Linked DNA regions of Homo sapiens: region 2 is linked to region 1. The links come from fine-mapping of genetic effects on gene expression. Tissue or cell type: tibial artery. Region 1 holds a variant in brackets; the other region holds the start of a gene. All regions are shown on one strand. Distances are between the middles of the regions.

What was found. PIP is the estimated chance that this variant, and not a neighbour inherited with it, causes the effect.
Region 2: CAPN6 starts here. The variant in region 1 is fine-mapped to the expression of CAPN6 in tibial artery (GTEx, PIP 0.97).

The regions. Positions count from the first base shown.
Region 1 is chrX:111,512,484-111,520,591 of GRCh38, reverse strand. SERTM2 (serine rich and transmembrane domain containing 2) reads right to left here. Exons shown (of 3, transcript NM_001354473.2): 3 at 1-2,517. The coding sequence starts at 1,734. The coding sequence ends at 1,462. Among named protein-coding and RNA genes, the nearest start is that of SERTM2, 4.9 kb to the right of the region's middle. The variant C/A (reference allele first, on the strand shown) is at 4,294.
Region 2 is chrX:111,266,758-111,274,865 of GRCh38, reverse strand. CAPN6 (calpain 6) reads left to right here and starts at 4,383. Exons shown (of 13, transcript NM_014289.4): 1 at 4,383-4,495.

The sequences.
Region 1 (8,108 bases):
AAGGGCCAATCTAAATTGGTTACAGACTACAAAGAGCTACATTTCTGGTGGAGGTGGCATTAATCTAACATCTATTTGATTTCTCTCTTACCATCATTACAGTTCCTGAGAGAGTACTCTGTGAAATTTGATGACCCCCCTTTAGGTACAAAAGATAACTTATTTTTTGTTTTAGCAAGTAAAATTTAACACAGGTGTACTCGTCCTTTGGTGGCAAGAATATGACCAGTTTTTTAAATTCTGATTTGTAAATGGTACTCATCTCCTTTGGTTTCCCTTTGAAAAGTTAGTTTTAAAAATTAAATTCTCTCCACACTACTGGCATACTAGGGCTACTTATGAGAATGGAATTTTTCAAAATATAATTCTCTTATAGGTAATAAGTGAAACACTTCATCTTTTGGCAGGGATCAGGAAGGGAGGAACATTTTCTGGGAAATACAAATGTGACATTTGAGGACATTGATCTCAATAAGGATTTGTTGGAGGATGTTGTTTAGTCCTTTCCTCCTTTGTCTCTCTCTCTTTTTTTTATGCTCAGATCTAAAGAGTATAGTGATGACTAAATAGCTCTCTAATCATTTTTCAGCACAAAAACCCTGGGACTCAGAAGGCTTGAATGTTTTGTCCAAAGCCATATTCAACAACAGAATACCAACATCATTTTATTTCTGCTCTAAAGTACAGTTGAGTCTTGTTTGCAAAGGCACCTTTTAAACAAAGCTCATATTTGTGTGCAACTCTATCCTAGAGTGTGAGAGGGAGAGAGAAAAAGACAAAGAAGCTGCATGAATAGAATTAATATGGATATAATATGCACATTTTTCTCTCTCTAGATGAGTTTGTTTACTAGAAACTTCTTTCTGAAAACTTGCTCTCTAAACTGAAACAGTTTCTTTAAATCTCTTCTTTCATTTGAAACAAACCGGATTGCCTAAGATGATCAAATCACTGCTGTTTAGGGAAAGGGCTTCTCTTCCATTAACTTCTGACATAATTTAACTTTGTATAGAGGTGATTCTCTAGGATCAAAACACTAAATTAGAACTTGTCCTTTTCTTGGGATATCCTCTTTGAAGGATCAGCCCTTTCAAAAGCAAATCTTCTTTGTTTGTTTTTGGAGCTTCCAGGGACCCTGTGCTTCTTACAACCACTGCGCATGAATTTCTGTGGTCTGAGGTTTGTGCAAGGCCCAGGCACTGTTTGGTTACTATGGAAACCAGCCCTCCCAACCAGCTGTCTTTTCCTATATTCCTTTCAGAGTGAGTCTTAAACGTTTTAGATAGCCCACAAGCAGAGTAAAGATGAAGAATAACACAAAGAAAACATGAACAGCTTGCTGTTAAATGAACAACTTGTGGATTCCCTACATGGGAAGCTTCATGCAAGAAAGCAAGCTCTCCTGGACATCCATATATAAGGGTTTACCCAGATCCACTAAAGCTCACCTTCATCCTGGCTTTAGGGAGTGGGGATTCGACTCTGCATCTCTACATCTGTGAACTGAGGAACACTTTCTGTGCTGTCAGAGTTGATGGGCGAGATGACATGTTTGAGCCGAAGGAGCATTGTGAAGAGCAGGATGAGGAGAATGGCCAGGAGGCTCAGGAATAAGCCCACATACATGTACAGGTTGGAATACTTGTCTGAAGAGGTATCAACCTCTGTTGCCAGAGTGGGAAAATGGGCACGCCCAGTGAGATTTCCATGGTATTTAAAATGCGCCTCCATCATCACTCAAGACTTGAGTTAGTATGTGTTTCTATTTGATTTCTACTGCCCTTGAGGCATTTCACAGTCACTTAGACTGTCTCTAAATCTATTGGACGTGTTCTAACAATCTGGTAAAAACCAATCACTCTCAGAGCTAAGGCAATAGCACACAAGCAGAAAATGGTGATGCTATTTGACAATTGCAACACCCTCTCTATCCTTCAGCACAGCAATCGCCCCTCCAATAGGTTTTATCAGAGCTTCTTAATCAATTTTTAAAAATACAAGTAATGTTTTATTTTCCACACTCCTACTTTTATACTGATTAAAATAAATATGGGTGAAACTGCTTTATAATACTGTTATTAGAACAAGAATCTTTTAGAGTATTATATCAGTGTTTTGCTCTGTTTTCGTAGATGGAGAAAAGGCTCGTTTTGCCTATACCTAATCTAGATGTGTGGACTAATTATGTGGACTTAATTGGGCTCTTCTGCGAGGAGACTATCTGAAGGCTTTTGTATATATCAGGCTCAGCTTATCTGAGTTTTCACCCCGTTTATCTGTATTTCTGAACCTTCCCTAAGGATGGAGATTGTAAGGTTCCTGCCCAGCTGCACAGCTTGTAAGTCTACAGAATGTGAGTTTTCTGTAGCTTTGTTGACATCCCTCACTGTAGGCTGGAGGGAAAGTGTTGTCAGACCTGGTAATTCTCAGGTGAGAGAGGTCTCAGAGATGCTGACAGCAGTAGGCCTAGGCTCAGGAGATTTGGCTCTTCAGATTCTCCAACAGATATTGATTTTCCTGAAAATCAAAAACAAAAATAAAAGATTCAGTTATCTCTAAGAAAAACAAATGGCAATGTATTTTGAAATAAAAATAAATTGATAAATTGCAAAATGGTTTGCTATATGCAAACTAATTTTAGAATGCTTTTTCTTCTCTGTAGAAAATAGCTTTTAAAAGGTTAAAGAAAAAAATCACATCAGTAAACAGCAGCTAATGACTAACCTATATTAGAACAACGTTTTCTAAACCAACTGATCATAAGATTTACTTGGGGGTACTTATTAATATACAGATCCTGGGCCCAAACCTAGACTTCCTGAATCATAATCTCCACAGTAGGGGCCTGGGCACCACTCTAGAGATTCAGACTTTATTGGTCTGGGATGGGACCCAAGCACTGCTATTAAAAAAAAAAATAGCCACCCATATTCAAAGTTCATGTTTAGAATGCCAAGTTAAATCATTTTGGAAGACTTCAGCAGTAAATAGTTGACCCTATTTACATGGTGGAATGCTTTTGCCCACAAAAAGAAGGTTCTATCTATACCAATGATGAAGGATGCATTTATTTGCTCAGAATAGGCACACCCTCTCAATTCCTTCTGGTCTAAAAACACTGGGGAAAAATGTCTATTTTTACCCCACATATCTAAATAAGAGAGATAGAAGAAAAGCAATAAAGTCTTTTCCAAGTAACTTCAAAGCGCAGCCAGGACTAAGAACCACTGATCTAGTTGAACCAGAAAGCCTAGCACTGAAACAAAGGAATCCTAAGTTTAAGGAATTGTTTTTCAATCTCCAGATCCCAGTGACAATTGTTACTTTAATGAATCAGGGGAACATTCAGGAATGCAGGCTTCCTCCAATTTTCTTTTTTTGTTCTATCTCTCTCATTTAGATCTGTAGAGTGGAAATAGACATTTCCCCCCAATAGTTATAGACCAGAAGGAATTGAGAGGGTATGCCTATTCTGAGCAAATAAATGCACTGCATGCTTTATCGTTGGTAAAGCTAGAACCTTCTTTTTATTGGCAAAAACATTCCACTGTGTAAATAGGGTCAACTATTCACTGCTGAAGTCTTCCAAAATGATTTAACTTGCCATTCTAAACATGAATTTTGAATATGGGTGGCTAAAATAAACAATATAAACAACCATCACCTGTCACACTTCTATGTGCAATAGTAGATTGCTAACAATGTAGCCTAGTTCTGTCTGTTGTTAACATACCCAAGGAGAGTTCATAGAAATAGCTCCAACGGTCACATTATTTTTCCTATCATATTGAATTTTGCCCCCAGCTTGGGAACACTTCAGCTTAAAGTTTGTATTCCCTAGCCCACGTTACTATACTTTCCATAATCCATATTTTTCTTAGTCTACCTGCTTACTGTTCCTATTGCCCATACAGAATAACTTGGTTCATAAGAAACAAGAGCAGAGAGAGAGAGAGAGATATATAATATCTTTCCACTATATTTGGAGCAATGGTCTAGGAAACATTTTTCTATCCTTACAAGTGCAGCTATTTTGATATTTGATTAGCTGGGATCAAGGCCCAGGAATACGCATACTAAACACAAGCCTTTCAAGTATTTCTTTGTATACTGAGCTTTGAGAGTTAATTATTGTTTTTTCTCTCTAGATAGCCCAGCTAAAGAATACAGCTAATCTATCTTATTGGTTGTTTGGAGGCTGTACTTTTAAAAGCATTTAAAACAGTGTTATGGGTGAATAGTGTCACCCCCCAAAAATGGTGAAGTCCTAAACTCCAGTAACTGTGAATGTAA[C/A]CTTATTTGGAAATAAGACCTTGTAGATGGAATCAAGTCAATATATTAGGTTGGCCCTAATATAATGACTGGTGTTCTCACAAGAAGAGGAGAAGACAGAGGCATACAAGCAGAAGACAGAGGCAGAGATTAGAGTGGTGCATCTACCAGCCAAGGAATGCTGAGGATTGCCAGCAAATACCAGAGGCTCGAAGTGGCAAGGAAGGAGTCTACCCTACAGATTTCAGAGAGTGCACGGCCCTACTGATGCCATGATTCCAGACTTCTATACTCCAGGCCTGAAAGAATAAATTTCTGTTGTTTTAAGTCACCTAGCTTATACAATTTTTTATGGCAGTTTTAGGAAGCAAATATATGGACTAATCACCCTGAAACCCTAGTGTTTTGGAACCTTTGGGGCAGTGTTTCTCAGAGTGGTCAAGGGAAGTGCCTTCATCAGAATCACCTACAGGGTGTTTATTATGAATAAAAACACGGACCCTTTCCCAGACCCTTTCCCTTTTTTCTTAGATTAGAATCTCTGGGGACAGTATCCTGGAATCAATGTTTGAAACAAGTTACCCACTTGTTTCTAAGCACACTCTTCAGGGAATGTTTTTCAGTCCTTGCTCTACTTTAATATTACTTAGTATGTTTTTGAAAATATATATAACTGGGTCTTTTCTTCAGGGTTTCTGATTCAGTAGCTCTGTATGGGGCATGAACATCTGTATTGCTTAAAAGCTCCACAGGTGATTTTGATATGCAGCCAGGGCTGAGAAACACCAGTCTACAAATAGAACAGAGCACTTCAAATCAGGACTCTAACAGTCCCAGACAGCCCACACAGCTCAATTGCTTCACTATGTATTCAGAGTGCTTCATATATAGGTTGTCAGTCTCACTGGCCTTCCTCCTCACCACTTCTCCCAGCAGCTCCTTTCCTTAAGAATGGTAGTAACCTAGAGATAAGAGCTTAATGGATTTTTCACCCATGTATCTCCTAAGTTACTTTTTCACCTGCCTTCCAGAAAAGAAGGGTAAGGAAAAATAAACACTCACTGCTAGTGCAAGTCAAGTGGGAGAAACCTCTACACTATTCTAGTATCTTTATACTCCCTTTTGGACCCCAAGTATACAGAATCAGGTAAGTCATACTCCTTGGTTTATGGCACATTGTCATCACTGGTAAATTTGAGCTCTTTTTATTCACTTATTTAATAATATATTGAACACCCATGGACAAACATCTGTGGGCAAACATCTACCAACTTTAAGATTGAGAATAACTAATAATTTACACGACATCTACCTATGCTCCTCCCATCTCATCCTCTTACCTATCCTTCTCCAGAAATAACCAATAACCAATATTCTGAATTTTGTGACTCATTACCTTCCTTTTATTTACACACACACACACACACACACCCCTATGCCTAAACGATGTTAGTATTATTTGTTTTGAACTTTATAAAAAATATACCAAACTGTGTAATCTTCAACTTGCTATTTTATTCTATATTTTATTACTATACAATTTATTTATAACTAGTCTAGTGGAATGAAAAAGGAAAAAGAAATAAAATGTTGGAAGTCTACATGTTGCCTTTGGATTTTACTCCATTCTCCTTAGCTTGACATTTAAGGCTGTCAATGCCTTGGCCCTGGCTTACCTTAATTCCTTCCATTACCCTCTTTCCAATAAAACTGTAATGCTCACTCTTACCTACTTCCCTGCTTCCACATTTTTGTTTGACCAGTTCCTTCTATCTTCACACATCTCTGGGTGAGGAAATACTACAATTCTTCAAGATTTAGTTCATGAAGCTGATCTTGACTTTCCACCCTAACCCTAATTTCCACAATGCTTTGTATTTCTCTTAGAGGAATTAAATTTGACAAATATTGCAGGTATCTAGTTGATATGTTTTCTTCTAAATTGTAACTTACAAAATTCTTGAGGATCATTTTCAGCAGTCTATCCCTGATACAGCTTTGCTTGCAGTAGCTGCTCAAGAATTATTGAATAAATGCATGGGTATGATGAAGAAATGTACCTAACATTTACAGTTCAAAGAGAGGCACAGTCTTATCTCTGATCCGATTGCTAATATAGCTTGGAGAAGAATATAACTTTCTCTTTTCTTTTTATTCCCTTCCCCCACTGTTCAATTTCTTATTGGAGACTAAATTCCAGATTATAATCTAGAATTAAGAAATTATCACCTTGTTAGAAACTCTCTTCATGAAGTGCTATTTCAGTTACAAGATTTTAAAGGAAAACTACATGGGATTGGTTAGATTTTAAATTAAATTTTAGAAAGTTCACTTGTGTCTGCAGATAATTTTCAATAACAATTGATACTACATTTTCTGCCTCCTACACAATTGACTCTGAATCTTCCTTAGGTCTGAATACTTATTCAATATTTATTAGAATTCTATGAAGCTTGGAGAAGCTTAGAGAACAATGATCTCAGCTAACCTTGTCAATTTCTTTAAACATTTCCTTTGAAAGTTTGGAAAACTAGCTAATCACATATTTCTTAAAGCCTCTACAGTCTTCGGGAGACCAAACAGTCTGGTCAATTTAGGGAGGTTTATCAATTTAATTCCTTAAATCCATTAAGGACTTTGAAATGAATAAATGCAACGTTAGATATTAGGAAATCCTCTTTTTTGTTACTCTGGTCCTATATCTGTGACTACTTCTCATAAAAGCTTTTCAAACAGGATTGTCATGGCTCTCTTTGCTAACTAATTAATGAGTTGCACAGATAATATGATTGCTCTGTTAAAAGCTCTGCACCATTTGGAAAGAAAAACAACCATGCAATTTCAAAAGGAATTCAAATTCTATTAATTCTGAAGGATATGATTTTTTGTGGAAAGAATTATTTTAGTATCCTGCAGTTCTTTCTGGAAAGCTCATGCAATAAAAATCAGTTTCTAGTCTTTGTAAAAGTGATTGAAAGCTGTTGAGGGAAAAGGAGGAGAGTGAGGAATGGAAAAGGGGGTAAGGAATTAGGGAAAGAAAGAAAGGAAGATAGAGGAAGAGGGAAGGGAGAGAGGAGGAAAAGAAAGAAATGTGAGAAATGAGTAAAGACTATGAGGGATGTGGGATGGAGATAAGATGGGGCAGGAAATGAGTGATTATGAGGGGGAGAAGGAAGGGAAGGAGGTAATATTGAGAAAGAATGGAGCAAAAAAAGAGGAAGAGAAGTTTGGGGGAAAGGGAAAAGAGAAAGTGTTTAATAACTGGTCAATGTCCAATATTAACTTGTACATCTGGTTTACTTCACTTCTAATGTAAACCAAAATACTCACAAGTGACATGAATATGCACCTTTGGTTTTCTAATTGCATATTTTGTCATTAATTTGGTAAATAAAATCTTAGTAACAAAAAGTCTTGTGTTTTTAGTATAAACATTGAAATGTCAAGTTCTCACTAATTTTTGACATCAGCATAGTGTATATAACCTCATAGGAGCAAAATAACATACACTCCTAGATCATGAATTTTGCTCCCCAGAATGATAAGGGAATAACTTTCTGCATCAATCAAGCCCGAGAGGGATTCTTTGAGTGAAACTTATTTGTAGCAAGAGCAACCAAGTTCTCCACAGGCCTCCAAAATCAGATTAACATTTCTTTGGCAAACATTTATTGAGTGCCAATCAAGTTCCAGACACTTTTTTAGGTGCTGGAGATATAAAATAAGTGTACCCTGATCTCTGTTTGGTTCTCAGGGTGCTCCTAGTAGTTACTTTTATTTTCTTTAACATGATAAGGTTCTGGGAACAACCCACTGGTAATTTTACATTTTTCTGC
Region 2 (8,108 bases), 250 kb after region 1:
CAACCACTGTAACCATTTATTTCAATTACTAGGGACAGAGGTTTCCTTTGACTAATATTGAGAAACTAGAGCCCTTTTGTTGACAAGGCAAATGAGTTGCTTCCCCTGATTAAAAAAAAGTTCTGCTGCCAGCCAGCGAAGCATATTTTTGTGTTAACCAGGCCAACAGAGAAGATATCCAACTTACACTCTCCCAAAATCTTGGTTGAACTCCACCCCAAGGCTATTTGGTTTGGAAGCTGACAGTCCATCCTCTTCCGTGGCTTCTGTTCACACTTTCACTGGCCTTAGAGGATTTCAAGCTAAAAAGAGGCAAGGACTGTAGTTAGCTAGCCAAAACCAAATGACACTGCCCCACACGGCAGAGCCATACTACACCAATGTACAGCAACCCCCGCCCCTGCCAACCACTTGGCATACTGGGTGCAGCTGGCTTTTTTTTCTCCCTCAGGGAACTCAGTTTTACAATCTAGGGATGGAAAATGCCCAATATAGGGGAAAATATTGGGCTGGGAATGAGGCTAGAGGAAGCAAAAGAACAGAATCCAAGACTTGGGTGAGGGCTGAGATGGAATTAACCAGAATCTATAACATCTTGGAGACAGCAGACACCAACTTGCTCCACAAATCCTAGGCTACCATATCAAAAGCCTCCTTACCACTATCCCCACAAGCTTTTAAATGAGGTCATTTTAAGATAAGTAAAATGTGCCACATTACCCAGATAATGGAACAAAATAGTAGTATGGACTGAAAACTTCCACAAAGCAAATACATGACTGATTTTTAATTATTGAGGGTGAGATCATGTTTCTTATTATAGCCTGCCATTATAACTCCAGCAACTAGCATAGTATCTGGTATATAGTAGGAGCTCAGTAAATGCTTATTGAAAATAGGACTGTTTTATTCCTATTTTATAGAGCAGGAAACCAAGGACCAGAAGGGCTGTGCCTTGCCCTAGAATATACAAGTAGCAAGCATCAGAGCTTTAATAAACTATTATTAAGGTAAGGCAGGAACACTCTGGCTCTCTCTTGACCATTTGTGGTATCTTAGTGTTCATAATGATCAACCAAGTAGACTATGAGGCAGACCAAGGTGGCAATTCTTATCCTTTATTATTCTTTGTTATTTCCTCTGACTGGGATGCCATCCTCAGTCTCTTCCCTGATTCCTACCAACATATGCACACATCATTATTTTGTTCCTATTGGGATCCTACTCATTATTTAAGATCCAGTTCAAATTTCACCTCTTGTATAAGGCCTGCCTCGACTACTCTTATTAAAATAGTTCTCTCCCATTTTGGAACTCATACAACACCCATAGGCCATACCACTCATTTGGTGTTTGAAATCTCATAGCATTCTGGTTAAGAGCCAGTCTTCAGAGTTAAATAGAGCCTGATTTAAATCCCAGCTCTGCCAATTTACTAGGTGTGTGGCTGTGGGCAAGTTAATTAACCTCTCCATCAAGGAGCATGATCTTTGAACTGGAAAGAGAATTAAAGCCCAAGATAGATGAGGAGATAATAAAGGAGTCCTTAGCTGCCTTCAATGAGTTTCCAGGCCCACACAAATCACATTTGAGGCTGCTGAGAGAATGTGCAGATGTGATCACAGAGCCAGTCTTGGTAACCTTTGAGAAATTATGGCAAAGAGAAGACATGAGGGGTGCAAAGAGGCAGGGAAATATCCCAATTTTTAGTGAAGGTAGGTGGTGGTGGTGTGGGGTGCAAAATATAGATCCTGGAAACTGAAGACCAATGAGCATGGCATTTATCCTTGGCAAAAGTGTAGAATGCACTGTTAGGCAGATCGTTTGTGAGGCTTTAGAAAGGGAGCGGAAATCACTAGGGGTAAGCATGGGATGACTAAAAGCAAGACATGCCTAACTAAGTCCGTTTCCTTTTTGAAAAGGGTATCTAAAAGGATAGATCACTGGGATACCATAGTATACTGTATCTGGATTTCAGCAAGACATTTGAAAAAGTCTTATGATATCTTCATGAAGAAGATGGAAAAGTCAGAGCTGGGTGGTAGCAGGAGTTATATGGATTGTTTCAAGTTTGAACAACCTTATCAAAAGGGGAAGACTCTTAAGGTTATGCTGCAGTATTCTGTCCTGGACCCTCTCATTCAATACTTTCATCAGTCTGGCTGATCAAATACACATATAAAACATTTATTGATACAGATCATGCATTCTCAATGGGGGTGATATTGCCCCCAAGAGGGCAAAAATTGATTCTTGAAGAGTGAAAAAAAAATTTCTTTTTTACATGAAACAGAGATATACATACAGCAAATAAACAGATAGACAGCAAATAAACAGATAGACAGCATATCTGTGGTATTAAAATTTCACGGAGAGACATTGGGAAAAATATCTAAAAAGGCTCTTTAGGACCGTGATAATGATAAAAAAAGATTGAGAAACATTACTATGGAGAATATGATTTTGTATATGAGGCTCAAGATAAAGAAAGATCTTAAGGAGATAGATTAAAATAAACAAGGCAATGGTTTTTGAGAATGAATACAAAGCCCAGCATCCAGGTAAAATTAAAAGTCAATTGTACAAACCTAGAATCAGGCACATAGTAGTAGTTCATGCAAGAAACAACAGAGGATTTTGATTAAGCTACGGGCTGCACACTGAGTAGATTTATGCTCAAAAGACAACTAGAGTGGCAAAAAGTCTGTAAACCATGTCCTATGAGGCATGGTTTGAAAGAACTGAGGATATTTAGCCCAGAGGATGAATGACTTGGCGTGACATGCTAGATATTTTAAAGGGCTGTCATGTGAAAGAGGAATTAGAAATTGTTTGTGTGAAGCTATTTTTTCCTCAACCTAAGGAAGACCCTTTTAACAATTAGGAAATGATCAAATATGGAATAAGCTGTTTTGCATAGGGATGAGTTTCTCAGACTGTCAGAAGGATATTTCTGCACTGAGCAAGAGGATAAACATGGCTTCTAAGGTTCCTTCCAATTCCCAGGTTCTGTGATTCCCTGCTAGATTTACAAGTATGAAGGTGGAAAAGATGGCTAAAGAATATGAGCCCAGACAAAACATCCTCCGTTGATTTTAAAACCAAAATTCCATACCAGGGATATTTGCTTGAGGACTATCTCACTGTCTAGCTGAATGGTTGCCAATATTTAGAGGCCTAATTGCCCTGGACCCCTGTTTCCTTGTGCCCTACCTCTAGCTGAATTTCCATCTTGGCATAGAAGGTACAGAGGGAGTTGTAGGGAAATGCCAAGAAGGAGATCTCAGAGACCAGAGTTATAGAAATGCTCAGAACTGTTTTATGAAAACATTGGTATGGGCCCAGTGAGTGGAGAGAGAACATGCTTCCTGTCCTTGTTGAGCTCTATGTTGCTCACTTGTTATCCCCAACCCCCCTTATCTCTTACATCTTCAACTAGCCAGCAGGAGGGTTGGTGCAGGAGGAGGGGTAGAAGGAAGTAATTTCAGGTTCAAGGGTTAACAGTACACTGGTCAGGAAAGCTGAGGAATGAGATGATGAGCATCTTTACAGTTTGTGAAAATGAAACAAACAAAACAACTTGAGAATCATGTTCCTGGAATTGTGTCCAAATGAATGTCTCAGGTTGAAGGGACCAGGACTTTGACTGTGATGCAGTATAGTATTTATAGGGATCTTGCTTGGCCTTTCAGAGCAAAAACAATTATTTTCTCTCCTCTCACCTAACACAGCTGTGCAGAATCTTCATAGCCTGGTTGCTAGAAATTAGGGTTCTTATAGCTGCTGTGGAATAAACTCCATTCACTTTCCTCTTAACAATCCCTTCTCTCTGTCTTTGACCAAATGTTACCTGTTGTTTCACGAAGTGACCTTTTCTTCATTGCACCCCATTAGCTGCTCTTTCACTCCCAGTCACTTCCTGAAGTCCTCATCACTATCACAGATCTGCCTACCAGGGCCATGTCTGACCAGGGCCATGTCTGCAGCCTAGCCCATATTAACTTTGCCAACACTTCACCATTTTTCTCTGCATGTCCTCTCTCTAGTAATGTGCATGTCTGTGATATTAACCCTGGGACAGAAAAGTAAGAAATCTATCAGAATCCTCGCTGAAAGTCTTATTTCTCCTTGAAACCGAAAGAGCTTTCAAACGTGGCTTCCTGAGTTTTTCAGTTTGCTGGTGGGTGGGTCTGGAGTGGGCATCCCGTCTGCACATCTGGTAGAGGCACTTTCCACATTTTCCTCATGACTCAGGATCAGTTTCTGACTGCTGGGCGGGGCAAAGCCTCCTGAAGTTGCTGCGAGGCACCTCCCCCTGTGAGCAGAGCTTGGTACAGCCCAAATAGTTTTCAGGTTAAGAAAGCCAGAATCTTTGTTCAGCCACACTGACTGAACAGACTTTTAGTGGGGTTACCTGGCTAACAGCAGCAGCGGCAACGGCAGCAGCAGCAGCAGCAGCAGCAGCAGCAGCAGCAGGGCTCCTGGGATAACTCAGGTGAGTAGAGAGGGAATTCGCAAACTTACCCTGGAGTTTTATTTCCTGGATAACTTAGCGTCTAAGAAAGATGAAGAAACTTCAACTTTGTAGTTAACCAAACTCCACAGCTATATTTTATGGCTTGTCTGGATCAAATATGTGCCCGTTAATAGCAGTTTGAGAACTTCAAAAATAATGGAATTTTTGGTTGGTTATTTTGAGGGGTGTGTGGGGTGATGATTGTGGTTGTCTGGCAATGAAACTTTTCTGGGGATATCTGGTCAGTTTTTTGTGTGTGTGCACACACGCGTGCATGTGTATGTGTTTGCCTTCTGCTACCCAAAATACCTGGTAAGTGAGGAAAAATCACAGGGGATGGTGTTGAGGGGGAGAAGCGTGGCTCCTTTCAGGGCCTCCTTCTAGCTTCTGCTGACCCACAGCTGTGGGAAAATTATTGAAATGCGAGCAAAATCTTGGAGCCACACTGTGTGCAAAAGGCCTGTGAACTCTGGTAGGAGGGTGAGCAGGCTGTGCAGTGTTGTACAGGAGGAAGTGGTGGCCAAGTCTATCTTAACTCCCTGTCTGCACAGCCAGTGGTCTTCCTGCCCTGGTGACAGGTTGATCTTGGCTATTCCATTTTCAGCCTCTGGCCTGGCTTTGTTCCCCTCTGATTCCAGCTTTGGTTTAAACTTTGATTTCAAGATGGGGCTCCATCCTCCACTCCCAGGCCAAGTACACTGTTCTAGGGTCTTCACTGGACCACTTGATCAGAACTGGCTTTGGGTGGGGGACGGGAAAAAGGAGCGGTGCATTGTAATGGAAACAATTGGTTCTGAGGATTTGGAACTGTAAGTTTGCTGAAAAGCACATAGGAAAACTCAGCAAATTCTGCTGTCCTAACAATTACTTCTGGCTTCAGGATAAAACATCCTGGTTTGTATTATTGGTGTATTGAAATTCAGCTAATGCCTCATTTGCTAATCTTTATTGTGAAAGTAAGAACACTTTACAGTCTGAAGTAATAAACAAAAAAATTATTTGTGGACTGCTAATTAACTCTTTTATTCCTCTGGAAGTTTGTGTGTGTGTGTGAGCATGCTTATGTGCACGTGTGTGCCTGGGTGTGTGTGAATACTTTGTATTCAAATAGCGTTCTTTATTTGTCCTTAGACTCCCTAGCAGTCTAGGGAAAAAGTCTAAACACTTACATGGTCAGGAATAGGTTAAAAAGCAGGCTTTCCATATCCTTGGGAGTTTTCAGTTCCTAAATTAAAAGCAGAAAAAGTCCCTTTGTGACCCCAAAACAGTGTTTCTTTGATTAGCCTTGATTTGAAATCATCTCACCTTCTGACAGCTTGCAATTCAAAAACAAAACTTCTAAGTGCATTCTTGTGAGAAGAGTACAATATGAATTTTTAAAAGCAACGTCTTGCTTGACATATTGTGTCTGCATGTTTGCCCTCCTCCCCACCTTACAACAAATTGTGGTTTAAAAAAAAACGTTGGGAGGTCCCAGTTTTAGTGTGGGCTCTGTCACTAACTACATAACCCTGGGCAAGTGCCTTTACCTTACAACAAAAGAAAGAAGTTGTACTAAGTGATTTCTAACAGACTTTCCAACATAACATTCTATAAAATCAGAATTTGATTCTTGAAAGGCTGGAAAAGTAGACATATAGGATGGGCTTATTCGGCCAAAAGGGCAAGTCAGCCAAAAAAGGAGGGGTGAAATAGGGAGGTGTAGAGAATGGTGGAGGGGCAATTTTTATATTAGTCTTTTAAATGTTGGTGCATGTCTTATTTAAAGCACATGATCAAATTTCATTAGTTTCCCCTAAAGACAGAAAAGAAATTTAACTTGTTAAAATAAGTGCTTCCTAATACTACTGCCCTGCTTTAGCCTTATCTTTAACAATAAAGAGTATGTTCACATACATAATTTCATTACATTCTCCCAATAACACTCTGAAGTAGACAGGGAAGCTAACATATTCCCATTGTGCTATGTGGAAACTGAGGGACTGAGATGTTATGTATACTAAATGGTGATATTTTGGATTTGTTTCTGGATCTTGTAACCACCTGTGTTCCTTTTATCATTTTGAATTGCTTTTTATTTTTTGATAGAGTTATTGAGCAACCGAATTAAAATTGTGTCCTCTTTTTTTTCCTTTGAATGGCTTTGAACAGACTCTTCTCTCTGGGCCAGTAGGTACATCCTATATAAGGCAGTGGGCTGGATCAGAGGATCTCTGTGGTCCTTTTTAGACCCAGAATATCTGGTTAGAAGTTTGAATCTGAACAGCCATACATAAGTCCTGTGGTTAAATGCGTGCCCATGTATGTAAGCTATGACTCTGCCTGTGTACCTATGAAAAGCACTATTCTCTGTATACCATGTGGATGCTGAATTTGTATTACTTTTTCCTATCCAAGTCCCTTTTCTCTCACCATACCACCCCCCAGGTGTGGGGATAAGGGATGTGGATTGTGGGTAAAAGTGGTGCCTACTTCATGCCAGGGCAGAATTGGGTCTTCTGTATTCAATTTGTCTGCAAACTTTTATTGATTTTATCTTGATTTTTGCTCCAAGTACAGAACAGGGATGAAACTGAGGAAAAGGAGAAACTAGGCAGGAACAATGCCTCAGCCATGCCCTCTCTCCCTCTCCCCATTAAGTTCCCTCATGTTCTCTCCCACTCACCTAAATCCAAAGTGGCTTGTGAACCACAGACAGGATGTATTTTATCAGATTTTTTTAGAGCAAAATATGCTTTTTGCTCTAAGGCTAACCCGCAGGTTAAGAAGCAAGAGATTTTGCTTTCACGACTTGCCTAGCTTCCTCAAGCTTTCCAGTCCAGTGAGTAGAAAAAAAATACCTCTCTCTTTAAACTGCAGCCTTGTATTCTACGTGGCAGTCTCCCTCAACTTCCCTGGCAATTCTCAACTTTCTGCACTCTGGGCCCGCTCCTATCCTTTGCCTTGGCAGACACGGTTGTCCTCATATTCTTTCTCAAAGTGGTGGATCTGAATTATAATAATATTGCCTAAGACCATTACCTCAATGCTAAGCCCCACCACACTCTGCCTCACCCAACCGCTCATTCCACTAGCCCTCAGGCCACAGGGTCCCTCTTCTCAAATGTCCACATTGCCTTTGTTAGCTAGAGGCTCTCCTTGGTTTATATTCAAATCCCTGGGTTTATACTCAAAGCCCTAACTTTTATCTTGTCTCCCGACTTTCCTAATATGTGATCTTTAACGTAAGGGCTCTCCCTTCCCCATCGCCATCGGGTGCAATAGAACAGAAAGGAGGGAGTGTTCCCTTCTCTGCACTCATCCGTTCCAACAGAGTAAGTTGTTTATGACAAACTCAACTTACAAATTTCTGGGTTTCCAAAAGTATTCTGATGTTTAAATGATGAACCCGCCGATGTAAAGAGTTCAGATTCTCCCATGAACATCAAACCATGAAAATAAAGAACCTTTTCAATGTCTACCATGGCAATAAATTCTAGGCAGAATGCCTCAAAGTTGAGTATCATGTTTGCTTTGGAGGATTTCCTCATTTGAACTAAAAAATCCTTTCTCTAAGAAGGCAGTGACCAAAAGAAGCAGTGTGGTGTGATGG